Regions from separate parts of the Homo sapiens genome. Here region 2 is linked to region 1. The links come from fine-mapping of genetic effects on gene expression. A gene starts in region 1. The other region holds a variant in brackets. All regions are shown on one strand. Distances are between the middles of the regions. Region 1 holds the start of GPR107 (G protein-coupled receptor 107). Region 2 overlaps GPR107 (G protein-coupled receptor 107).

The links. PIP is the estimated chance that this variant, and not a neighbour inherited with it, causes the effect.
Region 2: its variant is fine-mapped to the expression of GPR107 in whole blood (TOPMed, PIP 0.94).

The regions. Positions count from the first base shown.
Region 1 is chr9:130,045,144-130,061,367 of GRCh38, forward strand. It overlaps GPR107 (G protein-coupled receptor 107), which reads left to right and starts at 8,763. Exons shown (of 18, transcript NM_020960.5): 1 at 8,763-8,930. The coding sequence starts at 8,790. It also overlaps a transcript of FNBP1 not described here. RefSeq lists an enhancer at 3,711-4,211 and a silencer at 8,751-9,060.
Region 2 is chr9:130,127,158-130,143,381 of GRCh38, forward strand. It overlaps GPR107 (G protein-coupled receptor 107), which reads left to right. Exons shown (of 18, transcript NM_020960.5): 16 at 326-409; 17 at 1,483-1,604; 18 at 7,868-13,007. The coding sequence ends at 7,964. GPRACR (GPR107 adjacent cis regulating lncRNA) reads right to left here. Exons shown (of 2, transcript NR_135124.1): 1 at 16,087-16,224; 2 at 13,453-15,734. Among named protein-coding and RNA genes, the nearest start is that of GPRACR, 8.9 kb to the right of the region's middle. RefSeq lists enhancers at 1,801-2,020, 14,699-15,472. The variant C/T (reference allele first, on the strand shown) is at 8,870.

The DNA.
Region 1 (16,224 bases):
GTATAAATATTTTGCTCTCAGTTACCAGGTCTGAATTCTCTTTCCTCCAGAGACTGCTAGATATATAACAATGAGAACGGCCAGCTACCTATCTCCTAAGGCAGATTAATAGCCAGAGTGAGTTGGAGGGGGAAATTCAAACAATGCTGCACAGTTTAGTCTGCTAAAATTTGGAAACGGTACATGCAATGCAGGTTTATCTAACAAGACATTGCCTCAGTAATCACCTTCCTGCCAGGGCTTGACTTTTTAGTCAAATACAATGATCTAATCTTGACCAAGTTATTGGAGACTTCTCAAAAACAGTGACCACTTGTGAAAATACTCTAATCAAGAAGTAAAACAACCTGCTGCTTTAAAGAGGAGAAAGAGGAAGAGGAAGGGACAGCAGAAGAAAAAAAGAGACCACATGAAGATGAAACTTTTTAAGACGAGTAAGCAGGAGATTGTTAGTTATAGGAAGGAACCCATTAAAAGCTGCCGCAGAACTCTATGGATGTGAGTTAATTATACAACACTGCAAATATCTTTAACTTCATTAAGCTTTGGCAGTAACTGGAAAATGCTTGAAAGTGTCAGAATCTTCAAAAAATAAAGGAGAGAGACACCAATGATCATGAAGCCATGAGATAAAATGAAATAAGCCAGCAGAAAAAAGGCTAAAATATAGCACAGCATTTTTTAGGAAGAACTAAATCCATTTCAGTTTCCCTTCAGAGCAGGAGGAAGTGATTCTAAGACAAGGAAGTATCCCCATTAACAAACTACTGTGACCTGACCTACTTAGGAATCAGTTTTCACCAGGGGTACTCTAAACTCTATGTAAACGCTGATATTATCTAGGGGGTTAATCTGGGTTGCAGATACTGGTTTCACCTCTCAGTAAAATCTAGGGAACACTGATTTACAAAATTATGATCTTGGTGTGATATTACAAAATATATATTTTGTCGTCAACCTTGTTTCCTGAAGTATAGCTCCTAAAATCCTTAAAAACCCCAAAATGATGTCTTTTTATATACTAATGAGATGACTGATGGCTGACAGTCCCTAAGTATTAGTACCTCAAGATGGGACTGGTCACCATAAAGACCAAGACAAGATTAGAGGTGTGGGACTTTTATCTGCACCCACACTGTCACTCCAACCTCCGGGGACTGGGGAGAGGCGCTGAAAGTTAAGTTGTTCAGTAATGGTCAATAGCTTAATCAATCATGACTACATAAAATAAAGCCTCTATTAAAACTCCAAAAAACAAAGTTCTGAGAACTTCCAGATAGCTAAACACATAAAAGTCCCTAGAGAGTTGGCCGGACGTGGTGGCTCACGCCTGTAATCCCAGCACTTTGGGAGGCAGAGGCAGGCAGATCATCCGAGGTCAGGAGTTTGAGACCAGCCTAGCCAACATAGTGAAAGCCCTGTCTCTACTAAAAATACAAAAAAAAAAAAAAAAAAAAAAAACACCAAAAAAAAAATTAGCCCAGTGTGGTCATGGGTGCCTGTAATCCCAGCTGCTTGGGAGACTGAGGCAAGAGAATCGCTTGAACCCAGGAGGCGGAGGGTGCGGTGAGCTAAGATCGCGCCACTACACTCCAGCCACTGTACTCCGGCAACAGAGTGAGACTTTATCTCAAAAAAAAAAAAAAAAAAAAAGTTCCTAGAGGGTGGCATGCCCAGAGAGGGCACAGAAGTTCCACTCTCCTTCCCCCGTACTCCATATATCTCTTCATCTATATCCTTTATAATAAACATGTTTCCCTAGGTTCTGTGAGGCACTGTAACAAATTAAACCCAAAAAGGAGGACTTGAGATTTCTGATTTATAAACAGTTCGTCAAAAAAGACAGATCACATAACCTAAAACTTAAGATTGACACCTACTTGGGGTGGGGGGCAGTCTTGAGGACCAAGCCCTCAATTTGTGATATCTGACACTATCTCCAGGTATATGGTGGCTGAGGCAGGTGAAGTGCGAGGCTGCAGTGGGCCGTGATTGCACCATTAGACTATGGCCAGGGTGACAGCAAGACCCAGTCTCTAAAAAAAAATAAAAATTAAAAGAACACTAAATTAAAGGACACTCAGCTGATGTCCACTACAAAATTAATTACTTGGTTGGTGGTGGGAAGAAATCCCAACACGTTTGGTCACAAAAGTCCCCTATGTGAATTATTAAGTAAAAAACAAAACAGCTGGGCGCAGTGGTTCACACCTGTAATCCCAGCACTTTGGGAGGCCGAGGAGGATGGATCATGAGGTCAGGAGTTCAAGACCAGCCTGGCCGACATAGTGAAACTCTGTCTCTACTAAAAATACAAAAATTAGCTGGGCATGGTGGCGCACGCCTGTAGTCCCAGCTACTCGGGAGGCTATGGCAGGAGAATCGCGTGAACCTGGGAGGTGGAGGTTGTGGTGATCCAAGATCGCACCACTGCACTCTAGCCTGGGCAACAGAGCGAGACTCCATCTCGAAAACAAAAAGAAAAACAAAAAACCCTGTAAGTTTATGTTTTTTTTTTTCCTACTCTCAGTGGGGGACTCAAACATGTTCCACTGAATAATCTGATCACATGGACAGTATTAGCAACGAAATAAGGTATCCGGTCAAACAGAACAGAGACCCTGTATAGATGGCTGTGTGGTTAGAGGCAAACAATTGTATTAGGGCTTTTTGGCAATTCTAACCCTGCTTGCAACTAATAAACATCTAATTCGGGATCTTAGGTGGACAGATATTTATATAGCTGTAGATAGATATGAGATTTTAAAGCAGATAGGGTTTTGAAATTGTTAAATTGGGATCCCAGTGTTCCACTACTTATTAGTTGTGTGGCCTTCTGCAAGTTACTTACATTATCTGAGCTTCAGTTTACTCATTGAGAAGACAGGGATCTTGGCCAGACGCAGTGGCTCACGCCTGTAATCCCAACACTTTAGGAGGCCGAGGCAGGCGGATCGCTTGAGCCCATGAGTTCAAGACCAGCCTGGGCAACATGGCAAAAACCCATGTCTACTAAAAATACAAAAAAATTAGGTGTGGTGGTGTGCCTGTAATCCCAGCTACTCAGAAGGCTGAGGCAGGAGAATCGCTTGAACCCAGGAGGCAGAGGTTGTAGTGAGCCGCGATCGCGCCACTTCACTCCAGCCTGGCGACAGAGCAAGACTCCATCTCAAAAAAAAAAAAAAAAAAAAAAAAAAAAGACAGGGATCTCATAGGTTGTCATTAGTCTGAAATGAAGGAACTGGGGTTGAGTACAGTCTTTGGTGTTAGCCAGATTTGTATAGTTCTGTCCAGACAGCTATAGAGAGCTTTGGCTGAATTACTTTCCTTCTCTAAGCCTCAGTTTCCTTTTTTTTTTTTTTGAGACGGAGTCTCGCTCTGTCGCAGTGCAGTGGCGCGATCTCAGCTCACTGCAAGCTCCGTCTCCAGGGTTCACATCATTCTCCTGCCTCAGCCTCCCAAGTAGCTGGGACTACAGGCGCCCGCCATCACGCCCGGCTAATTTTTTGTACATTTAGTAGAGACGGGGTTTCACCATGTTAGCCAGGATGGTCTCGATCTCCTGACCTCGTGATCCACCCGCCTCGTCCTCCCAAAGTGCTGGGATTACAGGCGTGAGCCACCGCGCCCGGCCCAGTTTCCTCTTTTTTTTTTGAGATAAGAGTCTGGCTCTGTCGCCCAGGCTGGAGTGCAGTGGCGCCATCTCCGCTCACTGCAAGCTCCGCCTCCTGGGTTCAAGCCATTCTCCTGCCTCAGCCTCCCGAGTAGCTGGGACTACAGGCGCCCGCCACCATGCCTGGCTAGTATTTTGTATTTTTAGTAGAGACGGGGTTTCACCGTGTTAGCCAGGATGGTCTCATCTCCTGACCTCGTGATCCGCCCGCCTCGGCCTCCCAAAGTGCTGGGATTACAGGCATGAGCCACCACTCCCGGCCAGTTTCCTCTTCTTTAAAATGTAAATATGGCCATGCACAGTGGCTCATGCCTGTAATCCCAACACTTTGGGAGGCCAAGCCAGGCAGATCGCTTGAGACCAGGCATTCAAGACCAGTTTGAGCAACATGGAAAAACCTGGTGTCCACAAAAAATAAAAAAATTTGCCAAGCACAGTGGTGCACAACTGTAATCCCAGCTACCCGGGAGGCTGAGGTGGGACGATTGCTTGAGCCTGGTAAATTGAGGCTGCAGTGAGCCTTGATCATGCCACTGCACTCCTGAGAGCGAGACCCTGTCTCAAAAATCAAAAAATAAAATAGAAATAATGCTACTTCAAAGGTTATTGTAAAGGTTGAAAGAAAGGTGGCTTATGCCTATAATCCCAGCACTTTGGGAGGTGAAGGTTGGAGGACTGTTTGAGCCCAGGAGATTTAGACCAGCCTGGGCAACATGGCGAAACCGTCTCCACAAAAAAATACAAAAATTAGCCCGGCACGGTTGTGCTTAGCTACTTGGGGGCTTGAGGCAGTAGGATCGCTTGAGCCTGGGAGTTGGAAGCTGCAGTGAGCCGTGATTGCACCACCGCACTCCAGCCCGGGAAACAAAGTAAGACTCTGTCTCAAAAAAAAATAAAAATAAAAATAAAAATTAAAAGAAAGAATACGTATAAAATGTTTAGCACATAATATACACACAAGTATCAGTTCCCTTTCCTTTCCTCCTGTTTTCTGGAGGATTTTTACTTATTGTAGAAAATAAAGCAATCCTTTCAGCATTTTCTTTTTTTGTGTGTGTTTTGTGTTTTGTTTTTGTTTTTAGAGAGGTCTTGCTCTGTTGCCCAGACTGGAGTGCAGTGGCATGATCATAGCTCACTGCAGCCTTGAATTCCTGGATTCAAACCATCTTCCCCAGTAGCTGGGAATACAGGCCTTTAAACATTTCTGATGCAGCAGGACCGCCTGCCTGAACTTACAGTTGATTGGTTGTCTACTGGTGAAGAACTACTTCTAATGAAATTCTCAGGATTTTTTCTTCTTCAAAATTACTTGTTTTTAGCTTAAAATTTCCAACTTCTTTTGCATTCGAACTACTTACTAGGGACTCAAGAAAGCAATCAACTGGAAAAAGTGGAGTAGGATAAAACCAGGAACTCCATGGTGAGTGAAATGCTAAAACTGCAATGAATTTTTACAACGAATAATCCAATTCCCCTGTAAAGATGTACATAAAATCAAGAAAGACTGCCTGTCCTGTGGCTGAGCAAGTTATACACTAGGGTCGTCAGGTTGAGGAGTAATTTTGAAGTTTCTCTCCAATCCACAGGACTCAAAGTGTGTCAGAGCCTGGCTTTTCCATGATCACTTTCTACAAAAAGATGCACTTGGAGGCATTCCCGACACCCCAAGAAATGCATGAAAACTTTAGCTGCAATCCTGGAAGAAATGGTGTTTCAAGCCAAAGAATGAAAAGTAGCATTTGACTTCTGAATGTATTGCTAGGCCCCAATTTGACCACTAGTTTCCTATACTGTCTTAACAGAGGCTTTTGGTTTGCAATATCAATCAACTCTTTTTTTTTTTTTATTTGACAGGGTCTTGCTCTGTCACCCAAGCTGGATAAAAGTGTCATGGCTTACTCCAGTGTTGACTCCTGGGCTCAAGCAATCCTACCACCTCTCTGCCTCCTGAGTAGCTGGGACTACAGGTGCGTGTCACCATGCCCGCTAATTTTTGTGTTTTTTTTTTGTTTTTTTGTTTTTGTTTTTGAGACAGAGTCTTGCTCTGTCGCACAGGCTGGAGTGAATTGGTGCAATCATGCTCGCTAATTTTTTTTTTTTTTGAGACAGAATCTCGCTCTGTCACACAGGCTGGAGTGCAATGGTACAATCTGGGCTCACTGTAACCTCCGCTTCCCAAGTTCAAGCGATTCTCCTGTCTCAGCCTCCTGAGTAGCTGGGATTACAGGCATGCGCCACCATGCCTGGCTAATTTTTGTATTTTTAGTAGAGATGGGGTTTTGCCATGTTAGCTAGGCTGGTCTCAGACTCCTGGCCTCAGGTGATCCACTGACCTCAGCCTCCCAAAGTGCTGAGATTACAGGCCTGAGCCACCGCCCCTGGCCTAATTTTTGTATTTTTTGTAGAGAAGGTGTTTCACCATGTTGCCCAGGCTGGTGGCAAACTCCTGGGCTCAAGTTATCCACCAGCCTTGGCCTCCCAAAGTGCTGGGATTACAGGCATGAGACACCAGCCAGGCCTATCAAGTCTTTTGATAAGAAAAACAAATGGCAATTATACTTTCTTAAACTGGAGACTATTAACACATTAATTACTTAAAAGAGTTCTGAAAATGTCCAAACCGATATCAAATAATTATTTAATAATAATAGCACTAGATTCAACACTACACATTCTAGTAGCAACCTTAAGCTGATCCTGAAAAGTTAGAGAAAATAGTCCAGGCAGGGTGGCTTACGCCTGTAATCCAGCAATTTGGTAAGCCGAGGTGAGCAGATCACTTGAGGCCAGGAGTTCAAGACCAGCCTGGCCAACATGGTGAAACCCCATCTCTAGCAAAAATACAAAAATTAGCTGAGCATACTGGCGCACACCTGTGGTCCCAGCTAGGGAGGCTGAGGCATGAGAATCCCTTGAACCTGGGAGGTGGAGACTACAGTGAACAGATGTCACACCACTGCACTCAGTCCTGGGCAACAGTGTCTCTGTCTCAAAAAAAAAAGGAGAGAAAATAGAAAAATAAAATGTACTTGACTAAGAGAGTAAGGCTAAAAGCCAAGCTTAGGAGATCAGTCTTTCCAGCCCCTGCAGGCTTTTTCAGTCAATACCTTAAAGTGTAATGTCCCTTTGAAAATGTTGCCAGGAGAAGCAGGCATAACTTGTTCTGTTACTCAGCCTGTTTGTTTCCAGTTACAGCATCATGATTATGCAAATAATCTTTTCTTGAAACTATGAAATCACATGGCTAAATGTAATTGTCAAGGCAGCAGTTTTCTAGAATTTAAGAAGTAACTGTAGAGAAAATGCTCAACAATGTCTTTGTAGTCAGTTTTCCCTCATTCTTATTCCTCTCAATTCCAAAATAATGACTGGCACAATACAGCTTTCAAATATGTGAAAGAAGAAGATATCCTCTTAAACCCCTGGACAGACAGCACTGGTATGACCCTATGTAGGTCACATGATAATACCCAAGTATAGAGAAGCAAGGAATGCTATGAACCCAGTTTTAAGCCCTTATAAAACTGTTGTCCAGAAACTAAGACAAAAGTCTCCTATTTAAAACTATTTTAATGTTTCATCACTATTGTATTATAAAATGGGATTAAGATTCTTACCTGATTTTTTTTTTATTGAGACAGAGTCTCACTCTGTCACCCAGGCTGGAGTGCAGTGGCATGATCTTGGCTTACTGAAACCTCTGCCTCCCAGGTTCAAGTGCTTCTCCTGCCTCAGCCTCCCCAGTAGCTGGGACTACAGGCGCGCGGCCGTGATGCCCCGCTAATTTTTGTATTTTTAGTAGAGACGAGGTTTTGCCATGTTGCCCAGGCTGGTCCCGAACAACTGACTTTCAAGTGATCCGCCCGCCTCGGCGTTCCAAAGTGCTGGGATTCAGGCGCGAATCACCACCCTGCCAGGCCTCATTTCGTTTTTAGTACAGTATTATATTCAAATTTAAAACCAGAGATTTTCAAAGATGCCACTTAACTTTAAAAGATAAAAAGTACTCCAAAGCAGGTTGGGCGCAGTGACTCACGCCTGTAATCCCAGCACTTTGGGAGGCCGAGGCGGGAGGATAACTTGAGGTCAGGAGTTCGAGACCAGCCTGGCCAACATGGGAGAAACCCCGTGTCTACTAAAAATACAAAAATTAGCCGGGCGTGGTGGCGCAGGCCTGTAATTCTAGTTACTCCAGAGGCTGAGGCAGGAGAATCGCTTGAACCCAGAAGGCGGAGGTTGCAGTGAGCTGAGATCGTGCCATTGCACTCCAGCCTGGGTGACAAGAGCTAGACTCCGTCTCAAAAAAAAGAAGTTCCTATAATTTCTGAAAGAAGCAAAGAAAGTTTCCATACAGAATTAAGAGAAAAATGTTAAGACCCAGACTTGGGGTTGGATGAAATAGCATGAGGCAACAGAACACAGGAGTTAAGAGCTTCCGTGTGATTCCCAGCTCAACCTGGAGCAAATGACTTATTTCTCAGAGCCTCAGTTTGCTTACCTGTAAAGTAGGAATAATGATAATACGTACCTCCTAGCTCATCAAATTGTTCCAAAAATTAAATACAACAAAAGGCCTAACAAATTGCCTCATAAGGGCTCAATCAATCGTATTATTGCAACCATTTCGCTTGTATTTGAGTGTGAAGCGCCTAGAAAACCACAGGACCCCTACGGCGAGCCGGGAATTTTTAGATATTTTCCTCCGAGTCAACGCTCAGTGAAATCAGTTCAATCAGTGGCCCGACACCGTGCGGCTGACACAGCTTATCCCCCGACCCTGAGATCAGGGGTCCCCGGAGCCCAAGGTCGCTTCCAAAGCTCAGCGAGGCGGAGGTGCGGCCCGGGCTGGTCTGGTTCGGCCACCGTTGTTATGGCAACCGCCAATAGGTTGGCTTCATCTCTAACTGAAAGTCTGCACAGGAGCGGCCGATCGAAGGGCCCCGAGGTGGGCAGCACAGGCTCCTCGACGACTTCCTAGGTCGCAATCTCCAGGAAAACGACCACAGGGTCAGCGGAGCTAGCCGCCGAGCCCCGCTCCCCGGGCCCTTCCGGCGGCTGCGCCCTTTCACCCCGGACGTGGGCGGGAGAGGAAGCGGCTGGTGATGCTGGAACAAACATGGCCGCTCTGGCGCCCGTCGGCTCCCCCGCCTCCCGCGGTCCTAGGCTGGCCGCGGGCCTCCGGCTGCTCCCAATGCTGGGTTTGCTGCAGTTGCTGGCCGAGCCTGGCCTGGGCCGCGTCCATCACCTGGCACTCAAGGTAAAGCTTGGCAAGGCCGGGCCGGGGGGCGGAGGCCGAGGCCACTCCCCGGGTTTTAGGGCAACTTTGGCCCATTGGGGACCTCTGAGCCACTGGACCACCTCTTTGCCCCTGGCTGCGGCCTTTCACTGACAGGTGGCGGGGTCTGTGGGGAAGGCGGGTCTGGGCGGCGCTGGGGTCTTCGGGCTGACCGGCACGGGGCGGGAAGACTCGAGCTGAGGGAGGGGAAGGGGCTGAACTGTGGCGTTGCCCCCACGGACTCGGGAGGCTGCTCTTAAATCCCTGCTGGCTTCCCTGAATTCCTCACTCAGGGCAGCCCGATCGCCTTTCTTCTTTCTCCCCTCCAGCTTTTATGCTGGCTTTCCTTGTCCGCGGTCTCCGCTCTTCTGTGCCCTTGTACTGTACCGGCGGTTTGAAGGTACTTGGAACCTTAGCCTCAGTTTCCCATTTCGGTTTAGGGCGCTCTCTGGAGCGAGACTCTAGAGAAGGAATTTCAAATCTTGCTTAAAACACGTGACTGAGAATGTAAAGCCAGCATTAAGGTGTGTCTCTAATCAAAGGGCCTGCTTTTTCTTCCTCTATCCAGCCATTGTCTAGGGAAGAGAGATTTTTGATAAACCTAGAATGATACTCTGGATCTTGCTTTGTAACTAGCAGAGAAAAGACCTCTAAGGCTGAAACGCACCCTAAGGTGGTTCAGCAGTTTACTATATCTGGGAAATTGTCCAGGTGCTGTGGCTCATGCCTGTAATCCCAACACTGGGAGGCCTATGCAGGAGGATTGTTTGAGCCCAGGAGTTCGAGACCAGCCTAGTCAACGTGCTAAGGACCCCCTCCCCAAACCTGTCTCTACAAAAAATTAAAAATTAACCAGGTGTGGTGGCAAACGCCTGCAGCTTCTGGGGAGGCTGAGGCTGGAGGATCACTTGAGCCTAGGAGGTTGAGACTGCAGTGAGCCGTGATTACTCATTGCATTCCAGCCTGAGGAACAGAGCAAGACCCTTTCTCAAAACATATAAACAAAATTAGAGACATAGAAAAGTAAATTGTTATGACCCAAACTCTTGTACATTATTTTCATACCATACAGTCTTCTAAGAAGTGGAACTGTAGGCGGGGCGCGGTGGCTCACGCCTGTAATCCTAGCACTTTGGGAGGCCGAGGCAGGCAGATCACGAGGTGAGGAGATCGAGACCATCCTGGCTAGCACGGTGAAACCCTATCTCTACTAAAAATAAAAAAAAAATTAGCCAGGCGTGGTGGCAGGCGCCTGCAGTCCCAGCTACTCGGGAGGCTAAGGCAGGAGAATGGCGTGAACCTGGGAGGCGCTTGTAGTCCCAGCTACTCGGGAGACTGAGGCAGGAGAATGGCGTGAACCCGGGAGGCGGAGCTTGCAGTGAGCCAAGATCCCGCCACTGCACTCCAGCCTGGGCAACAGCGCGAGACTCCGTCTCAAAAAAAAAAAAAAAAAGAAGTGGAACTGTAGAAAGTTTGTCTTGTAAAAACACATTGTTTTAGCAAACTATGAAGCATTGTATTTTGTTAATGTAGAATTTAAAGAATACAGAATGAAATTAAAAGCCTGGCTTGACTGGGCACGGTGGCTCACACCTATAATCCTAGCACTTTGGGAGGCCGAGGTGGGCGGATCACCTGAGGTCAGGAGTTCGAGACCAGCCTGGCCAACATGGCAAAACCCCTCTCTACTAAAAATACAAATATTAGACGGGCATGGTGGCACATGCCTGTAGTCCCAGCTACTTGGGAGGCTGAGACAGGATAATTGCTTGAACCCGGGAGGCTGAGATTGCAGTGAGCAGAGATCATTGTGCCACTGCACTCCAGTCGGGGCGAAAGAACTATACTCTGTCTCAAATAAATAAATAAATAAATAAATAAATGCAAGCCTGACTGGATCCATACAACCTTACTTTTTGGTAACAACTTTTGTTGTTTGTAGGTAAAAATTATCCTGATTAAAATGGTTCAATCACAGGGGTGGGGGTGGGGCAAGTGAATTTTGACTCTTTGAGAATCTGTTGAGAGCTATAGAACCTCTCTCCAGAAAAGTGCATGTAGAAATGTAGACAAAACTTGGCCGGGCACGGTGGCTCACGCCTGTAATCCCAGCACTTTCAGAGGCTGAGGTGGGTGGATCACTTGAGGTCAGGAGTTTGAGACCAGCCTGGCCAACATTGTGAAATCACATCTCTACTAAAAATACAAAAATTAGCCAGGCGTGGTGGCAGGTACCTGTAATCCCAGCTACTCGGGGCTGAGGCAGGAGAATCGCTTGGACCCAGGAGTAGGAAGTTGCAGTGAGCCAAGATTGAGCCCCTGTACTCCAGCCTGGGCGACAGAGCAAGACTCCGTCTCAAAATAAATAAATAAATAAAATAAAATAAACATCCGAAGTCAGGGGTGTCCAATCTTTTGGCTTCCCAGGGCCACATTGGAAGATGAAAAGTTGTTTTGGGTCACACCTAAAATAGACTAACAGTAACCATAGCTGATAAGCTTTAAAAAATTGCAAAAAAATCTCATAATGTTTTAAGAAAGTTCACAAATTTGGCTGGGCGCAGTGGCTCACGCCTGTAATCCCAGCACTTTGGGAGGCCGAGATGGGCGGATCACAGGGTCAGGAGATTGAGACCATCCTGGCTAACAAGGTGAAACCCCGTCTCTACTAAAAATACAAAAAATTAGCCAGGCGTGGTGGCAGGTGCCGGTGGTCTCAGCTACTCGGGAGGCTGAGGCAGGAGAATGGCATGAACCCGGGAGTCGGAGCTTGCAGTGAGCCAAGATCACGCCATTGCATTCCAGCCTGGGTGACAGAGCGAGACTCCTTCTCAAAAAAAAAAAAAAAAAAAAAAAAAAAGAAAGTTCACAAATTTGTGTTGGGCCGCATTCAAAGCCATCCTGGGCCGCATGCATCCTGGACAAGCTTGTTCTGAGTTCTTGCCCAAGGAAATGGAAATCATTTGAAGAGAGCCTGTCAGAGCAGCAACTTTAGATTGTCTGTTTTGCTTGAGACTGAGTGAAATAGGGTACTTGATCAGATTAGAGACCCATAATGGCAAGGATAACATGAAGAGGTCACTGAGTACCAGGAGTATGCGTTGATCTCTTAAAACCTGGCTGCGCCTGGTAGCTCACACCTGTAATCTCAGCACTTAGGGAAGCTCGTTTGAGGTCAAGAGTTGGAGGCTGCGGTGAGCTATGATGGCGACACTACACTCTAGCCTGGGCGACAGAGCAAGACCCCATCTCAACAACAGCAACAAAAATTAGCCAGATGTGGTGGTGCATACCTATAGTCCCAGCTACCAGGGAGGCTGAGGTGGCAGGATCCCTTGAGCCTAGGAGTCAGAAGCTGTAGTGAGCTATAATGGCTCCAGCCTGGGGGACAGAGTGAGACCCTATTTCTTAAAAAAAAAAAAAAAAAAGACAAAGCAAAACAACCTTTTTATTGTGGAGAATTTCCAATATACTAAAGCAGATAGAATAGCATAATGAACTCCCATGTGCCTGTCACCCTCAATAACCATCAACACATGGCTGATTCTGCCTCATCCCACATACATCAATTTCTGGTTCTTATTTTTTATTATTTTTAAAATTAGAAATGAGTCCTCTTATATTTTTATTGTCTTACTCCATGCTACATTTTCCACCATTCTTCTGGCTTTCCCAGTCTTCTCACAGTCCATCTCTTTTGACTTTTCCCTATATTCCTTGCCTTTTTATTTATTTATTATTATTATTTTTTTTTTTTGAGACAGAGTTTTGCTCTGGCACCCAGGCTGGAAAGCAATGGCGCGATCTCAGCTTACAGCAACCTCCGCCTCCCGGTTCAAGCGATCTCCTGCCTCAACCTCCCAAGTAGCTGGGATTATAGGCATGCGCCACCACGCCTGGCTAATTTTTGTATTTTTAGTAGAGATGGGGTTTTGCCATATTGATCAGGCTAGTCTTGAACTCCTAACCTCAGGTGATCCACCTGCCTCGGCCTCCCAAAGTGCTGGGATTACAGGCGTGAGCCACCGCTCCTGGCTATTTATTATTTTTGTTTATTTTTTTAAAGACCTGTCAGCAGGAAATACTCCTTGCCTTTTAAGAACAACTTTATTGAGGTATAATTTACATACCATAAGATCACCCATTTTAACTGTATAATGCAATGATTGTTAGTAAGTTTACCGAGTTGTACAGCTATGACCACAATCTAGCCACAGAACGTTTCTGTCACCCCATAAGATCCCTTGTGTTGGTTTAGAATCAATTCCCATTCCCACCACTAGTCCCAGGCAGCCACTAATCTACTTTCTGTCTCTATAAACCTACCCTTTCTGGATGTTTAATGTAAGTGGAATCACAGGATGAGTAGGCTTTTTTTCTTTTTTTTTTTTTAGACGGAGTCTCGGACTGTTGCCTAGGCTGGAGCGCAATGGCGTTATCTCGGCTCACTGCAACCTCTACCTCCCAGGTTCAGGCGATTCTCCTGCCTCAGCCTCCCGAGTAGCTGAGATTACAGGCACCTGCCACCACGCTCAGCTAATTTTTGTATTTTTAGTAGAGACAGGGTTTTGCCATGGCGGCAAGGCTTGTCTCGAACTCCTGGCCTCAAGCAGTCCGCCCGCCTCGGCCTCCCAAAGTTCTGGGATCACAGGTGTGAGCCACTGCGCCCGGCCGATAGGTAGGCTTTTGTGCCCATCTTTCTTTCTTTCTTTTTTGAGCTTCGTTCATTTTGTGCCATGTGTCAGTAATTCATTCCTTTTTACTGTTGAATGGTCTTCCAGCGTGTGGATATATCTTCTTTTGCTTAGCAGTTCACCAGTCGATGGATGTTTGGGTTGTTTCCACTGTTTGGCCATTATGAATGATGGTGCCATAAACGTTCACATTGCAAGGCTTTGTGGGGCCATATGTTTTCATTTCTCTTGGATGATATCCAGGAGTGGAGTAGAATTGCTGGGTCATATGATAGATTTATGTTTAACTTTTTAAGAAACTGCCAAACTATTTTCCAAAGTGGCTCTACCATTTTACATCCCACTAGCAATTTATGAGAGTTCTCTTTCTTCACAATGTTATCAGCATTTGTCATTGTCTTCCTATATTATTTTAAAGCATATTGGCTGGGTGTGGTAGCTCATGCCTGTAATGGCCTTTGGGAGGCCAAGGCAGGTGGATCACCTGAGGTCAGGAGTTCGAGACCAGCCTAGCCAACATGGTAAAACCCTGTCTCTACTAAAAATACAAAAATTAGCCGAGTGCGGTGGCGGGCGCCTGCAATCCAAGCTACTGGGGAGGCTGAGGCAGGAGAATCACTGTAACGCAGGAGGTGGAGGTTGCTATGAGCTGAGATTGTGCCACTGCACTCAAGCCTGTGCGATAGAGTGAGACTCCCATCTCAAAAAAAAATAAATAAATAAAGCAAATCAAAGGCATTGCATCATTTCATTCTTAAATATTTTGATATTACCTGTAAAAAATAAGAGCTCTTTTAAGAACATGGCTACAATGCTATTATAACAAAAAAATCCTTAGTATCATATGTCAGATCAGATTCAAATTTTCATTGGTCATAAATGGATTGAAAAAGTTTTGAAAAATCAGGATCTAAGTCACATCCTCATACTGTGATCAGTTAATACGTCTTTTTTTTTTTTTTTTTTTTTTTGAGATGGAGTTTGTTCTTGTTGCCCAAGCTGGAATGCCATGGTATAATCTCGGCTCACTGCAACCTCTGCCTCCCGGGTTCAAGTGATTCTCCTGCCTCGACCTCCTGAGTAGTTGGGATTACAGGCACCTGCCACCACACCTGGCCAATTTTTTGTATTTTTAGTAGAGACGGAGTTTCACCATATTGGTCAGTCTGGTCTCGAACTCCTGACCTCAGGTGATTTACCCGCCTTGGCCTCCCAAAGTGATAGGATTACAGGCATGAGCCACCAGGCCCAGCGTGATCAGTAAATAAGTTTTATTTCGGGGGGAGGTTGGGGGGCGCACGGAGTCTCATCCTGTCCCCCAGGCTGGAGTGCAGTGGCGCGATCTCGGCTCATTGCAACCTCCGCCTCCCAGGTTCAAGCAATTCTCCTGCCTCAGCCTCCTGAGTAGCTGGGATTACAGGCACCCACCACTACGCCCAGCTAATTTTTGTATTTTTATTAGAGATGGGGTTTTGCCCTGTTGACCGGGCTGGTCTCAAACTCCTGACCTCAGATGTTCTGCCCACTTTGGCCTCCCGAAGTGCTGGGATTACAGGTGTGAGGCACCGCGCCCAGCCTATCCATTTCTTATTAATGGAATAAAAATGATAATCCGAGTTTTTTTTTTTTTTTTTTTTTTTTGAGATAAGGTCTCATTGTGTTGCCCTGGCTGGAGTACAGTGGCTATTCACCAGTGCAAACATAGTGCACGATAGCCTCCAACTCCTGGGCTCAAGCCATCTTCCCGTTTCAGCCTCCAAAGTAGCTAAGACTACAGATGCTTGCCACTGTGCTCGGCTAATCTGAGTTTTACATCAAAAATTGTCTAAATATGATTTTTATATTGTGTTAAAAACACAATATTTTGATGACTGATCATTCTGGCTTTCAAGTAGATGCTGCAAATGAGCAAGTGGACAGGAAGTGCTTTGCTAAAGCCTCAGAAATTTGGGCATTTCTTGGGTTTGATACTTCTATGATAATTATCCACAAATTATAACTCAAATACTCTAGACTTTGTGTCAGCAGCTTAGCAAGGCATGTAGTTTAGAGCAGAACTTGGGAATAGCCAGTCCTCACTGCTGTCGAGTGCAGTGTAACTTCTGGGCTAGTCATATTAGAAGCCTTCCTCGCTGATGGGATCTAGACTAGAAGATGTTGGATGAAAAGATAAGTTAAAGCAGAACATCACACAAAAGGAGTATGCACCTGAAACTTTATTTTGACTTAAAATCTGCCAATATACATTCATTGACTTAAATGAGTGACATTAAGCTTACTGGATGACTTCGCAACACATGCCTTCTGTCTCTTACTCATTCAACAAATACTCTTCAGGTGTCTTTTATATACCGGGTGGGCACTTCTAGACACAGGCTGAGGCAGTGAGCGGGACTAAGCCCCGACCTTTGTGGAGTATTCATTCTAGTGGTAATGGACAGCTAGCTTCTAAACACCTGAATGCACAAGTAATTTAAAAATGGGATAAATTGATGAGAAAATAAAACAGTATTGGAACCAAGAGTAATGGAATTGGAAATTACTGTGGAGAGAGACTCTGAAGAGTTAATATGTGAGTGGAC
Region 2 (16,224 bases), 82 kb after region 1:
CTTTGGAGATTGAAATCAAGGGCTTATGTCTGTGGATAGGGTGAGGAAGGGTTAAGAACAACCTGACTAAAGTGTCTTGTGCTCCCGGTGGGTGTGGCTGTTAGCAATATCTTGGTCACCTGGAGAGAGAGAAGAAATTCAAGTGTAACTAGCAGAGTAGCCATGTCTCTCCGCTGCACGTATTAATTCACACTGTAAGTGTCACATACTTTTCTTTGAGTGATTCTGTTTTCTGTTTCCTAGTTCATTTGTGAAAGCAAATTGTTAAAGTGGTGTCCTAATTTTAATGTTGATCTGATTTCCTGTTTCTTTCCTCCTCATGCAGATTGTGTGTTACATATACTTCACTAGGATCATTGCATTTCTCCTCAAACTCGCTGTTCCATTCCAGTGGAAGTGGCTCTACCAGGTACGCTGCTCACAGGGCAGAATGCCAGAGAATTTATGCCTGAGGATAAAGTCTTGAAGTGTAACTTAACAGTTGTTACTAATTTATCTGGGAATGACCACTAAGACCTTCCATCTCTTCTTTTTTTTAACTAAAAATTTTTTTTTTAGTTTTTGAGACAGGGTCTCACTCTGTCACCCAGGCTGGAGTGCAGTGGCGCAATCTCAGCTCACTGCAACCTCCACCTCCCGGGTTCAAGCGATTCTCCTGCCTCAGCCTCCTGAGTAGCTGGGATTATAGGGATGCACCACCATGCCCAGTTAATTTTTGTTTTTTTAGTAGAGATGGGGCTTTGCAGTGTTGGCCAGGCTGGTCTCAAACACCTGATCTCAAGTGATCCGCCCACCTTGGCCTCCCAGTGTTCTGGGATTACAGGTGTGAGCCACCACACTTGGCCTCCTTCCATCTCTTCTGGCCTATAATTGAGATGATCTGTTTGTCCAGAAATGCTGCTGGATTCTATGAGGAATCTGAAAATAATTGCATTCTTGATTTTAGTTTTCAGTCTTAAAAGTCAAGAGAAAAGCTTCAGGTAGAGAAAGATTTGCCCTGAATCATTAGAACTTAGATGAGATGTGGTCCTTTCCTTTAGTTACAGGGCTGAGTAGTTAGAATTCAGGCTGCCCTTCTTCTTTGCCCATTTTATTATTTCGATAATAAGTATCTTTGCGACAAACTAGAACTAGCTTAACTACTAGAGGAAGCCACCAAATGACTTTTTTCTTGAATAACTCACTGGGTGCTGTAGGCACTGTGGGAGGAAGTGGGTATGTGGTGAGCTCTTAAAAGCTACCCATGAAGACTGGTGAAAGCACAGCAGAGCACAGCCTCGGAAATGTCAGCCCTGGGCAGGACACTCCTCGTTTAGGCCTCGGCAAGTCTAAGGAAAATGCCCTGTAGCAGGAAGTGGCATCTGAGTAAAGAACCATCGAGTGGTGGGTTGTGGGGAAATATGTCAGTTTGTTGAATTCCACTGCTTTCTGAAGAACAGTGTTGCTAATCTCTTTATTTTGGGGTGGTTTTTAAACTTGCAGCTCCTGGATGAAACGGCCACACTGGTCTTCTTTGTTCTAACGGGGTATAAATTCCGTCCGGCTTCAGATAACCCCTACCTACAACTTTCTCAGGAAGAAGAAGACTTGGAAATGGAGTCCGTGTAAGAAATCTTTCTTCCCTCTTCCTTAGCCCTGACCCCTTTGCCTAACACAAAGCAGCACAGTGTGAATCGGGTCGGCTGCTCTCAGCATTTCGTGGCTGCAGGGGTGGTTCCTCTATTTTTAGCAGAAGGAAGCGGACACTGGAGCCCCAGGCTGTCTGATCTGGTTTGAAGTACAGTATCTGCCAAACCTAGCTGGGTCTTGTCAGGGAAGATGGAACTTGCCGTTCCACTAAGCATCATTGGAGCCTGCTTTCAAGAACTCAGTGGCAAGAACTTAGGAATATACGTGGCCAGTTCACGAGGGAGAACAGGGGGCCGACTTTCTGTCAGGCCCGCCATCAGGCGCTTACGTCTGAAAATGGAATCTTCTGAGTCATCTCTAAGTCTGCTAATGATCCTCAGACATCCTCTATCGTCAGATAACTGCGTGGCTTTTCACAGCACAATGACTTTGACCTATATCTGAGCACTAATAGGGGCTTTTCTGAGTCACACAGTGAATGACTCTAGGGTCCTATTTTCTGGGAAAGGGCCATCATTGTCTAGAAAAATGAGTAGTGATTAAGCATATTTGCTTGTTAACTGAAATTTGATAAGCCAGGTCAATGCTGTGTTTGATGATTAGCCTAAGGCAGAGTTTTCCCTTCTTGGTTCACTGGTATCAAGTGTTCTGCCCCCAGCCCTGGCAGCCTTTGAATTCTTCCCAATTCAGAGGCTGAGACTCGGCCCATGCTAAGCTCTGCTTGGCTGTCAGCGGGTCAGGCAGCATGGGACAGCTCTCTCTGCTCAGCTCCACGGCAACAGTAAAGGAAGGCAGGTCCTGCCAGCGGGCGCCAAACAGCATCTCCCCATGCAGAGGAAGAAACACCTCCTTCTAAACAGTGGAGAGGAGTGCAGGAGGCCCATCAGCTGTGCCTTTCCCAGAAGTGGCAGGATCTGAGCAAGTGTCTGTTGGTTGAAGAGGCACACATGTCAGGCTGGCAACCAGCAGCATCAGGAAATAACCTAAGACGCGGTGTGTTTATCATTCCCCTGCTGGGAGCCTTTGGCTTGGTCCGTCCGCATAACACGGGGTTCTTTGGGTAGGCAGCTAGAAGCCGAGCGGCCGGGTCGCAGCATCGTCTCCTTTACTGCATTGTACTCCACAGTCGTAATGGGAGGTTCCCGCTTCCCACATCCTTTCCCTCAGCCGTTACATCTTGGAGCCTGGATGCATTATGAAGGTATTTTTGTTTCGTGGCAACAATTTTTTTAAAATTTTGTTTTGGTGCTTCTTTGACAACGCGGCCCACGCAGCTGCCCTCTGTGCAGCCATTACCCCACCAGGCCTGACACAGCTTCTCTCTCTGGGCCTGGGTATGAGGGCACAGTCCAAAGTAACACTGACTTTCTCTCTCTTTCCCCTTCTGTTTCTTTGACCATCTCTCTTTAGGCCTACCAGTTTTGGCAACAGAAGTTACCGGTCAATAATCAGCAAGTTAAAAAGTATCGGATGCGATTTCAATTATCAGACTTGGTAGCTGCCTCCTAGGCTGTGGGTATCCTCAATGATCTGAATTACTTCTGTCATCTTGAGGAGTGAGAGTGGAAGGAAATGTTTGGTGTGGGTTCCTGGGCCAGGAGGTTTTCTCCCTGGGGTTCCCATTCCAGAACGCTGTCCTCATTCATGGTTGCTGTTCACCTTTCACCACTCCCTGCATTATTTCATGTGGGCGAGGAACGTGTGTGGAAATGGGGATTGGGGACTAATAGACTTGTCTCTTCACCAGGTCTCCCCACACTTCCAGACCAGAAAACACTTTTTAGTTATAGAAATGGATATATCGGCTGGGTGCAGTGGCTCATGCCTATAATCCCAGCACTTTAGGAGGCCGAGGCAGGCAGATCACGAGGTCAGGAGTTCGAGACCAGCCTGGCCAACATGGTGAAACCCCATCTCTACTAAAAATACAAAAATTAGCTGGGCGTGGTGGCAGGCACCTGTAATCCCAGCTACTCGGGAGGCTGAAGCAGGAGAATCTCTTGAAATCGGAAGGCGGAGGTTGCAGTGTGCTGAGATCACGCCACTGCACTCGAGCCTGGGCGATGAGAGTGAAACTCCGTCTCAAAAAAGAAAAAAAAAAAAAAAACGCATGAATCCGTGGACCACTTAGGCCCAAGCCACATTTGATTGCAGTCTTGTGTGGCAGAAGGAACCTGTGTCCCATTTGGCACTTTTGGTTGCAAACACAGAGACTTGGGGCTTTGCAAGGAAAGGGGGTTACTGTTTAGATGTCAAGGAAAGAACGCTTATCTGCGGCGGTCGGATGTTGGCCCTTCAGCTGTTCGGTCCCTTAAGTGTTTGCACCAAAACTAGGACACCTAGTGAGGTGGCTGCGAAGCTGCTGAAGCCCCACCGCCGTATGTTCCTGCCAGGGAGGCTTTTGGGTGTTCATCTGACCCAGGTCTCTCTTCTCACTGCTGCAGAGCCTGAGCTTCCAGGACCGTTGCGGGCGCCCTGTCTGCAGGGGGCTAGCCAGGTTTCCTCACATCGTGGGGGCCCCAGGTGTCCCTTCAGCTTCCCAGAGGTTTGCTGGGGGAACAGGATGTAGCGCCTACCCCACCCTGGGCATCTGCCATCAGGTTTCTTCCTCTCCTTGAGTTCACTTCTGCCACTCCCAGTCCTGGCCACACACTGAAGCTCCCTGTCACCCGCCCTGCCTGTGACAACCTCCTGCGCTACCACACACCCTTACTCCCGTTCTCCCTCTTCGCACTCCCAGGACTCACCCAAGCCCAGGGTTGCCCCTGCTACCCCCTCACTGCCCCCGGCCCCTCCTGAATGCCAGGTCCCCCTGTCCTCCTGCTCCGCGTCACCTCAGCCTTGAAGCCACAGTCTTCCTGCATCACACCAAGCTCGCCCCTCCCCATTGTTCCCTATAGGCCTTGGTGACACGGACATCCACCCAGTCTCCTGCAGCCATGGCTGAACCACGTCCCTCTTCCTCAGCCCGTGCAGAGCGTCCTGTAGGCCTTACTTTGTGCCTCTCACCCCCAGCCCCACCCCGCCTCTTGCTCTCGTGCCTGGGCTTTGTGGTGGCTGACCTCTTCACTCCCGATCCTCTCCCCTTCCTGTCCATCCTTCTATTCCCCTGCAGACAGGGTCTCACTCTGTCACCCAGGCTGGAGTGCAGTGGCACTATCACAGCTCACTGCAGGCTTGAGCTCCCCGGGCTCAGGCAATCCTTTCACCTCAGCCTCCTTAATAGCTGGGACCACAGATGAATGCCACCATGCCCAGCTAATGTTTTTGTATTTTTTTGTAGAGATAGGGTTTTGCCATGTTGCCCAGGCTGGTCTCAAATTGCTGGGCTTAAGCAGTCCTCCCGCCTCAGCCGCCCAAAGTGCTGGGAATGCAGGCGTGAGCTGCCCTGGGAATACAGGTGTGCCCAGCCCTTCCTGTCCATTCTCCCGGGCTCTAGAATCACCTGTAGAGTGTTTTTGCAGTGCCAGTTTCCTGGCCGCACCCCTGGAGACTCTGATTCTCACCCCTTGGGCTCAGGATCTGTGCTTTTCTCACTCCCCAGGGCAGCCTGAGCAGGAGGCAGGGCTGAGAACTGCCAGAGTAGGAATCAAGGCCATCCTTGGGTGACCAGGCAGACTGGGCCCTCGACAACCCTGCCGTCCTGTGTCCACCCTGGTTCTCTCCCTGCCACTCTCCTTCCCAGACTGGCTGGATGTATTAAAATATATTTGCCGTAGGCCAGGTGCAGTGGCTCACGCCTGTAATCCCAGCACTTTGGGAGGCCGAGGCAGGTGGATCACCTGAGGTCAGGAGTTTGAGACCAGTCTCGCCAACATGGTGAAACCACATCTCTACCAAAAATACAAAAGTTAGCTGGGCATGGGGACATGTACCTATAATCCAGGTACTTGGGAGGTTGAGGCACGAGAATCACTTGAACCCAGGAGACGGAGGTTGCAGTGAGTCGAGATGGCGCCACTGCACTCCAGCCTGGGTGACAGAGCGAGACTTCATCTCAAAAAATCAAATAAAAAAAAAATATATATATATTTTTATATATTTATATATATATACACATATACAATCCACACACTGCAAGTACTTAGCACTCCCTCACTGCCCTGGGAAATGTCCTGGGTTTTTCCTTCATGCTTTTTGCCTGTTATATTTCTTCTTTTTGGAAACTCCCCTGACCTCCCACCCATCTTGTGGGCCAGATCCTCTGCATCTCATGACGGGCTTCCTGGCTTCCCCGATTCCCCGGCAGAGGGATTCTTCTCAGCCCGAGCCATCACCGAACCCGGTTCCCAGCACTCCTGTCTCTGTTGGAAGTGGCTTTGCAGGGTTGCTGTGGAAGACCATCTCTTCTCCTGGGCTGTGGGCTCCGAAGAGCAATAAGACCACTTCTTTTTCCTTGATGACCTAGCATGAGGCCTGTCTTGAAGAATAAAAGTTGTTTTCTCACTTGGCCCACCATGTGGAAAGGAGTATTTTCTTAGAGAAAGAAAGGGAGAAAATGTTTTTCCCAAGTCTGCCGTCAGGCCCATATCCGGGTCACAGTGAATGCGCTTTGCCTCTTAGAATCAACGTGCATTGAACTCTTTGTCCTTTTTTAACAAGATGCAGTAACCATAGGACAGCTGTGTGATTACTGGAGTGTTTCTGGAAGACGTGGGGTCGCATTTCTTTGTGGTCTCAGTCACTGTGGAGAGGCACGGGGGCTGCTACGTGGCTCGGGGCAGGGGCTTCTCTGGCTCATGCAAAGGCCCTACCTCCTGCATCCCCGTCTAGAGAAGGTCCCTTCAGGAGCAGCCCTGTGCACATGGATCCCTCCTGGGGCAAGTGTCTTCCTAAAGAGGCCAGGCCTGAGACACAAGCCAGCTGGCCAGAAGTGACGCTGGGCGGCTTCAGCTGAGGCATTTTCGTCTTAGGGGATGCTTTTAGAGTCACTTATAGCATCTATGGGATCTGGCCACATACCTTGTCCCAACTTTGCCATAAGTACAAATAACCTGTGAGTCTAAAGGACTCGTTTGAGAAAGGTTCCGGCTTGGGGGATTCTTTGAGCCTGGGCATGGTAGCACCATAATGGCAAGAATGAAGAGATGAAGAAGAGGGGGAAGTTTTCTTCCCTTACCCCATACAAACATTTACTTACCATGAGGTCCAGCTGCATGCACTCTAGATGGGTCACATATACGGCCACTGTGTTGCCATTTGTAGGGGAAGGGGTTAGGTAGTTGGCAGAGGGATGGGTTGGGTCCTTGGAAAGAGCCTGTTGAGTTGATTGATTGAATTTATTTTACTGATGAGGAAATTTCTTTTGGTCCACCATGGGGGAGCATAAATCCTCATTGTTTCCTCGCTTGCAGGGAAGATGCTGGGCCAAGCGGCTTTTGACACCCAGTATCTCTGCCTAGTTCTGCTACTCACAGAGCCACCCAGTTCCCTCATAGACCAGCTCACCTTCTGTGAGGCAAGAGATTATCCTCTTGAGAAGGTGGGGCCCGTGCATGTGATTCCTTCTAATGGAAAGGGCTGCCTTGCTCAGCTCCTCATGCCCTGCGAGACCAGCGATCTTCCATTTTTAATCCTTGATTTCAACGAATGGCTCCATGGGGCCTCCTCAGAGCCAGGCACCAACAGACAGAGCCCCGGGAGCTCACAGAGTGGAGGCAGAGGCCATGCGCTGAGGCACAGCCACATGGCCCAGCCCCAGCTAGCAGAAAGCAGCCAGTTCTCTGTCTATAGTGGCCAAAGAATCTTTGATCCTGGAAGGTTCCTCTAAACCTGTGGTTCTGTCCCCTGGCTCAGAAATGATCCATTGTGGCTGCTTATTAAAAATGTCTGGTTGGCTAATTAGCTTTCTTTTCTGAATGTCCATTAAGAGTCAGATTTCAGTCTCATAAGCGTAACTATCACATATCTGTGCGCCACAAAAATTCCGCAAGCTGTGACAAAAAGATTCATGATGATTGTGATAACGATAGCTGGTGTTTATTGATTAGGCACTCTGGAGAATCTCATTTTTCCTCATGACAGTTCTGGAAAGTGAGAATTACTTAAGCACAGAGAGTTCAAGTGACTTGGCCAAGGTTACACAGCTAGTAAGGAACGAACCAGGAATCACACTTAGATTTTGTCTGTTTCAAAAACCAACACCCATCATCAGTCCTAATCACCGTGCTGTGGCAGAGATGGCCTTTTACTAAGAGACTGTGAGATGTTCCTAATTGTTTTTTCTTTCCTTGTTCAGTGTGACAACATCTGGGGTGATGGAAAGTATGAAGAAAGTCAAGAAGGTGACCAACGGCTCCGTGGAGCCCCAGGGCGAGTGGGAAGGCGCCGTGTGACAGAGCCGACCCTGAGGATGGCACTGTCCAAGGAAACTGTTAACTTATTCATAGTCCTATTGGACAGCAGGAGCAGCTCCTACAGTGAACTATTGGCACCACCGACAGTGACACCAGGGCACATGGCTGGAGCACAGTGCCGCGGAAACCTGATTTTGTACTCTCTTTTATGGAAACGATCTGTGGCTGTTTAGAGGCAGCTGGATCCTCTTTCAGGCGGGAATGGGAGGGCGGGCACAGGGAGGAGGAGAGGAAGAGAAAAGGAAGAATTCATTTTTAATTTAGGTTTCTTTTTTTCTTCTTCATTTCGGAGCTCTAAGGTGTATGCAGTTGTGACCCCATGTGTGGGGAAGTGTAGCAAGGACGGCTGGTGGAGGGGGAAGGAGGGTGCGAGGTGTCTGTCTGATGCTTTAGGAAATGTCTACTGAGGACCCTGGGACTTAAGAAGAAGGGCGGGGAGAGTGCCATTGCCTGTTTGGGAGACAAAAATGAACGAAAACAGGTGACTTTGGAAAGCAAAGTCAAAACCCAGTTTAGGATGTAGCACCTGCCCCAGGATTCCTGCCCTCGGCTTTGCCCCAGACCCTTATTCCAGATGCTGAGAGTGACCAGGACAGCAGCTCCTGAGGCCCAGTGGTCTTCTTTCCAACAGGAAAAGAAGGCTGTGATGTCGCTGTCAGGATCATGCCCTGTGGCACAGCACAGGTGGTGGGAGGTGGTTTTCTGACTGAGATGTTGCCTGATGGATGGAAAGAAATGTATTTTTAAGTTCAAAAAGCATTATCCTGTGGCGTTGCCTGGACATCCACTCCCTGACAGCCCAGAGCAGCACTGTCTGGCTTCCCTTCATGCTTGTGGCTTTGTTGTGTTTGATCAGAATTTTGGGGGAAATGGAAAGTTTTCCT[C/T]AAGGAGCAGCTGGGGGCAGAATAGGTAGTATTTAAGCAAATACTTAAGTCCAAGCAAATCATCCCCATTAAAAAGCTTTTCCTGTAGGCTAGTAGGATTTCTAAATAGATGAATTCAACAGACTTGGTCCCCATAGTCCAAGAGTATGTATGTGAAGAAAGTGAGCATGATTCAACAGTTTCACTCTCAGGGATTTTAGGATGGCAAAATACTTCACAGAAACTCAATGATTAAGTTCCCTTCCACACTTCCAGAGCTTGAATGAACACAGGTAGCCACCTAAATTGAGCAGTATTGCAACTCAGAGAGAAAATCATCTGAATAGTAGGACAAGCTCAGAAGGTACATTGTGACTGAGGGCTTAAAAGGAGACCAAAACATGGCCCCATCAGGGAAGCTTCTTAATGCTTGGGGGGCCAGCTAGGTAGGGTTGCTTCCAAAAGCTGGAGCCCACCCCTGCCTAGGGGTTGTCAGAGAGCCACACCTGCAGGGGAACAGGTACCTCCGAGGGTGAGAGTCGTGGTCTCTGGGAGTTGTTTTCTCACCTCTGGCTTAGAAGGGTCAGGCAGAAACCACAGGATGTGGGGTCACACTCACTGTCCCAAGTTTGGGAACCTGAAAAAGTCTCCATTCAGAACATGGTTGTTCTCCCTGTCCCATGCTATCTTATCTTCCTAAATGACTAATGAGGAAGCGGGTGTTCTTTTTCTGCACTTTGATTCGCCATCTGGGTTCTGTAGGGTGCTCTGAAGGTGTGATCTGCCTTCTGGCTGATGTGGAGGAAGAGCAAGCGCCTTCCCAGGCCACAGCTGCTCACCTCTCGGCAGATATTTTAGGCAAGCATCCGTGTGTCTTCCCATCTTCAGGAGAAAGGTAAATGCACCCTAAGTGTTCACTTCTGGACCTTTTTCAAGTTCACTTGGGACTGTGTGACAGAAGGGAGTTGGAGGGAGGATGGGAATATTTTTAACACTTTGTTTTCCTGTGCAGAAACATAATACCAGTTTTCGCAGAAATGTGTCTCAATCTGTGACTACCAAAGCCCTCCTCAGTCCTTCCCTCAGAGGGACACATTTGCTGTTTCTCCCGCAAGCAGATGTTGTGGATGAGGCGATAGACTCCTTGGCAAGAACGAAAGGTGTGATGAAACCTCCCTGCTCGGAAGGGTCTCCGTGGAGGTGTCCTCATTTCACATGCTGGGTTTTGCAAGCGAGGAAGCCAGGCAGTGGAGGAACTAGAGAGAGGCAGGCGTGTGTGTGGACAAGCGCTGGAGCCGCAGCCCTCAGACTGGCACGGGAACGCCAGCGTTGGGTGTTCAGATTCCACGCGTATGTCTGGGCTCACTCACAGCATGGCCGAGTGTCTGCAGTGCTGGTCCTGACCCTTCCAGAGCAGCAGTGGACAGATGAGATAAGACTGTTTCAGAAACAAAGATGGCCACAGCCTTCCTAACAAGCAGGTCATCTGGCCATGTCTGTATTGTAACTGGTAAAAGGCTTCAAGTCAGATTGATGATCAAGAAAAGTCAAAACCCCAGCCCAAGATTGGGAAAGCAGGTGGTGGTTCCAAGCTTTTAAAAAATTATTGAAGCTCTCCATCCTGTTCTGTGAGTGTGTCTTCTCTTTCTCCTTCACGTCATAGCCGTGACCCACCGTTCATCTCTGCTCTTGCGTAAAGATGACCGATGGAGTCCAAAGCCAAGTGGCTTCACCAGCTGACAAGCCACCCTCCTGCAGCCTGAGTTTCACAGTCCACTGGGTTCGTTGTCATGCGGTGTTTGAATGGTTAAGCCCTTGCAGTATTTCAGATCGGGCAAAAAATATCGGATGCACATAGCAGAACCATTGGTGGTATTTATAGCTTTGCTTTGTACTCCTCACTGTTTCTGCCTACGCAAAATATCCATGTTTCCTCTGAGAAATCTGTTGTGGACTGAAAGCGCTGCTGGCTGTGAAATTTAATAAAGTGTGTATGCTTTGCTAGAAAATTATTTCTTGGACAATAGGAACAGTCATTGATCTGTAAATCCTGGCTCTTAACAGTGAGTGGCCAAGGACTTGATCAGCCCATTTCTTGGTCCCTCAGTGCTTTAAAATTTAAGTAGCACTGCATTTTGTAATGTTGAATATGACTCTAGTGACTTGTAGGAGGCACTTGTGAGGAGATGCTTGCTTCAGTGTAAAAGATGCTCATGGCCTGAGTCAGTTGAGTTTTCTTTCAAGAAACCACTTCAGAGTGAAATATCCAGGGTTTCCCCGCCCTGGACATGTCCAGCCTGCCCAGGCAGCACACAGCCCTGTAAGTCCACCTCGTGTGGGTGAGATTTCCTCCTGCGTGATGACCTCATCGCCATCTCTGCTGTCTCATTCCACAGCCTCCCTCCCTCTTCTCTCCTCCTCTGCCCTCGCCCTTCCCCCTTCCCCATCCCCTCCCCCTCCTCCTCTGCCCTCGCCCTTACCCCTCCCCCTTCCCCTTCCGCTCCTCCTCCCTCCTCCACCTCTTTCTCCTCCTCCTTCCCTCCTCCTCCCTCCTCTTCCCTTCTCTGCCATCTTTCTCCCCGTGCCTATTGATCCCACATAGGCTCATTCTGGGTACACCGGCTAAAGGCTTTGGTGCATTGCAGCGTTTTCTCCCAGCAGCTGTGTGAAAGATGCATTTTCTAAGCTAAGGAGAATTTTCTCAAGAGTGGCATACTCATGCCAAATATTATTGCTCTGGGCCATATAGGCTGGTCTTCCTCCACACTAAAATGGGTGTCTTGTTTTGGTACTTAAAACAGTCTACTCCAGGCATCCAGTCCTTACAGACCAAGGAAGAGCATAGCGATGCCTGTTGGAATTGCAGATGCATTCTGGCCTTCTCCCCCGTCCTGAAACATTTTCTTTGAGGAAGGCTCTTAGAACATTAGATAGTCTGCTGAGGTTGTTGGCCCAGCTCCATACACCCAGTAGAACAGTGGAACAACTCATGCTTCATGCTGCCAAGCTGCTGTACTTCAAAGGAAACAGATCTAGCACACTGCTGCACCCCTGCTTCCACACTCCACACTTCACCCCGCTGCTTTTCTCTGACCCGCCCCTGGCCTTGTAAGACTCACGTAAGCTAAGTCCAGGATGCCTGTGGCCTGCGGCTTGATTCTTCCCTTTAGGATTCAGCAAGTTAATGGCTTCCTCGCTATAGAAGTGAGACTTTGACTTGATGCCTCTTGGTATATCAAAAAGATATTCATCCAGAAAGTACCAAATGTTCTGAAAGACCCGCTCTTCACTCCAGTTTTCCCTAGGGTGTTTCTGGCAGGGCGTTTTTAAAAGGCATCTACCTGAGTTGACGCTAATACTTGTCACCACCTGGAACGTAGTTATCGGTCGGCAGGCTGAACATACTCCAGATTCCCCAGAGGCCACTTCTGTAGCCCAGCGATGCATCTGAGCCTCTCTGCGTGGTTTATGCTTGAAAAATAGATAATGCTTTTAGATGGTTCACTGCCAGGCCATGGGCCCCACACATCTCAGGCCCTGTGTGAGGGAGCACACTGAGATGGTGCAGGAGTGAATGGGCATGGCTTGGCCTCGCTACCTCGGGGACCTGTTGGAGTTCTGGCAGCAGGGTGTCTGCAGGTGGGACGGCGTTCTGGGCAGAGTCAGAATGGTCAGAATGAAACAGAACAGCCAACTCACCCACAGGACAGCTTATTTTGAGGCAAGGTTTTGGATTTTGGAGGAAGCAGCCAGATGAGGCGGTGAGCCTCCAGAAGGTCAGCCTTTGGAGCACGTAAGATACTGTTACAGGGTCCAGAAATCGTGTTCACATGGGGGCTTTGACTCTTCAAACAGCTTTTGCAGATCGTAAATTGCATTTGCCTAGTCGTGTGACCTCAAAAGAAGTCAGACATATTTAATCCAGAAATAGTTTCGTTTGAGGGAGGGCTTGCAGGTCTGTAAATAGCATTTGCTTTCCTGGTTAGAGATTGGGATGCAGAAGGAGTTTTCAGTATTTTTTTTAAAACACTAATGATCATTGAAGAGTATTTATGTAAACATACAACGTATAATGGGTGGGGGATCCGATCATGGTGATGTACGGGGTGAATTCTCTTGCCGTGTTGCAAATGTGTAAAATAAAGATTATCTGGCAGAACCGTGTGTGTTTGAGATGCAGGGAGTTGCCGGCTCCTGGTGCTGTCTCTCCTCCACCTCCATCTCATAATTTTTTTCTTTGTGATTTTTGTTCATTAAATTAGTTAACTGCCTCCCACCAGCTCCTACTGACAATAGTGACACCTACTAGAGAAGTTCCAGGCATCTTAGCCGATCTGTGGCAGCGCAATTAAGACCCAGATAACTGAAAACCGGTTGTAGGTTACTGCTGTCCTGCTTACGCTGGAGGCGGGCGATGTCTTGTGAACCAGTGTCGGGGCACTGCTGCCATTTGAGGGGAGATGGCAGGCCTGGCGCAGAGCCCGCACTGTGACAGGCGCAAATGCACCTTCTGCATCGGTTAGCAATAGCTCTGGGTTACCCCATGTTGGAAGCAGAGAAATCCAGGATTTTAGACTCAAAGCATTTTTAGAAGTCATTCAGTTCCAAAGCCCATATTTTACTAAGAATGTTTTAAACTGAGGCATATTTTACCTACAGTAGAATCCATCCTTTTTAAATGTACCGTTTGTTGCGTTTTGACAAATGGATGTACAGTCCTGTGGCCTCCACCACAATCAAGATGAAACGTGCCCGTCACCCCACGCAGCCCCCTTTTGCCCCTTCCCGGTCCAAACTGCCCCCTTTCTGAAACTACCACAGCCCCGGCTCTGATTCCAGCGTAGTCTCATTTGCCTCATCTAGAACTTCATGTGAATGAAACTGCGCCGGGTGCCCTCTTTCGTGTCTGGCTGCTTTCACACAGCATACTGATTTGTGATTCATCCCTCCAAAGCCCTGCCTTCAAAACGCAAAAACTGGGGCCTAAAGAAGGTTCTGCCACTGCCCACCCACATCCTTCCCCTTTTTCCCCCAGCTAGTAAGTGTCAGAGCTGAGACAAGAACCCAGGCCTGCTGACTCCAACCTTGTTGGGATAATAAGGATTAAGTCAAGGGCTTGGCCCAGTGCTGGGCACAGGAAGGCCTCAGAAAAATGGCTCTGTTGGTTACTGCCGTTGTGCTTATAAAAATGTGAGCATGGGCCAGGTGCGGTGGCTCACGCCTGTAATCCCAACACTTTGGGAGGCCGAGGCAGGCGGATCACCTGAGGTCAAGAGTTCAAGACCAGCCTGAGCAATATGGCAAAACCCTGTCTGTACTAAAAGCTACAAAAATTAGCCGGATGTGGTGGTGCGTTCCTGTAGTCCCAGCTCCTCGGGAGGCTGAGGCAGGAGAATTGCTTGAACCCCAGAGGTGGAGGTTGGCAGTGAACCAAGATCCTACCACTGCACTTCAGCCTGGGTGACAGAGTGAGACTCTGTCTTAAAAAAAAAAAAAAAAAAGTGAGCATGAACCTCAGTTCACCAGATCATAGGATTTCAGAATGAGAAGGAGAGAGAATCCCTGTCCGTGGCCAAGGTTTCCCAGTTAGTGGCCATGCCCCACCCGCAGCTCTTTCTGGAGACCTTGCCTGTGCCGCAAAGCATGAGTAGGAGGCATGGGGTGTCCTGAGAGTAGGGAGTCCAGGATTCAGAACCCAGGATGAGAGATGCCAAGGCAACTCGAGAAGGGGACAGCTGAGAAAAGACTCAGGAAGGACCTTGCTGATATCTAATCCAGTGGTCCTCAAACAGCAAGCACCCGAATCCCCGACAGAGTTCCTGGGGGGCCTGAGAGTCGGCATTGCTAACACACTCCCAGCTGGTGCCAACATGGCAGATCTGGACCACACTGAGAACAGATCCAACCCAGTTCTCTTCCCGAGTCTTGGGTCAGTCTTCAGCTGGCAACACGGACAAGGGCCCACCTTGCACACAGCTCTTACGGGACAGAAGTCGGCGGCTCTGTCCTGCCAGGAGGCATTGCAGTCGGGACCAGGTGAGAGACCGCAGGCAGGTGCTGGCAGGGGCCTGGCTGTCCTGCTGCTCCCCTGAACCATCCCACATGGGGTCCCCTTGCAGTTCAGGTCTCTCTGGCTCCTTCTTCCCCCACCGCTAGCGTGGAGCTTTGCCAGTTAGAAATTCAGGGGCTGACAGGATGAGCTTGAGAAGCCTTGGCGCCCGTGGGTTTGGCATTAGAAAAGCCCACGCCCACAAGTCTGACCCCGGCTTCAGTAGCTGAGCCTCGCACCCTCCTTTGATCAGTGTCGGCAGAGGAAGAGCCGCCTGGCGCAAAGCAAGGGCTCAGCAAATGAGAGCCCTTCAGTGCCTATGGCGGGCTGGACTTCATCCAGTAAGACCACCCCTGAGGGTGATAGGTCGTTTCAAGGTCATTTCAGAACAGCCCCTCTGCCTCCTCTGTTTGCTGAGCCTCCCATCACTAGGGTCCTGACCGCAGACACCAGCCAGCCAGGAGCTCCAGTGTGAGGCTGAGGAGACCAACCTGCCCTGCTGGCCCCGAAGACGCAGGTCATACGAAGCTGGTGTATTGACTTACTCTGAATATAAGCACCCATAAGCACTTACTCTCTGCAGCACTGGAACAGGCCTGGGCATTGCAGTTGCTTAGTAAATATCAACTGGACTTGAACCTACACCAGCGTCCTGGGAGGAACAGTTCTGTCCCAGGAGGTCTGGAAGCCAGCTTGGCGATCGGCAGGCATTGTCAGGGGAGCCAGATGCCTCCCAGGTTGGCCGCCCTCCTCAGCTGCAGCATCTCATTTCTTCCCTTTGTGCAGGAGTCTTGTCATGTGATTGGTCATCTCCAGCTGGTCCACTCTGATTGGCAGCTGGAAAAACATAACGGTCAACAACTCTAGTCTGGTAGGCAAACTCTTGAAGTCAGAGAAATAATTGGGTCCTGATCTTCAAGAGGCCGGGGGATTTCTGCTTGTTCTGATAAAACAGGCAGTGCAGGCTAAATCCAGAGCAGATATTGGCCCCAGTATGTGTTTCTGAGAAGAGCCTACTGCTCCCAGGCCCCAGGACCCTGGGTAGATCCTCCCTGCCCCCACCCAGGCTCCTTAATTTTCGAAGCTGCCTTTGGGTGGCCTGCCCTTCACCAGGAATCTGTCAGGTCGGCAGATTGGTAGCCGTAGACTCCCTCAGGCTAAGTAACAAGGAGGCTGGGTAAGTGCTTACCCTAAGGAAAGAAAGCGCAGACTTCCTGGAGGCTGGCATTGGCTTTGCCCTCCCGTAAGCCACCTGCATGGTGGGGCGTTTCTGAGAATCCGTCCTGAGCCCCTCGGCACTGGCCCGCCCACTCCCACGAAGAGAAGC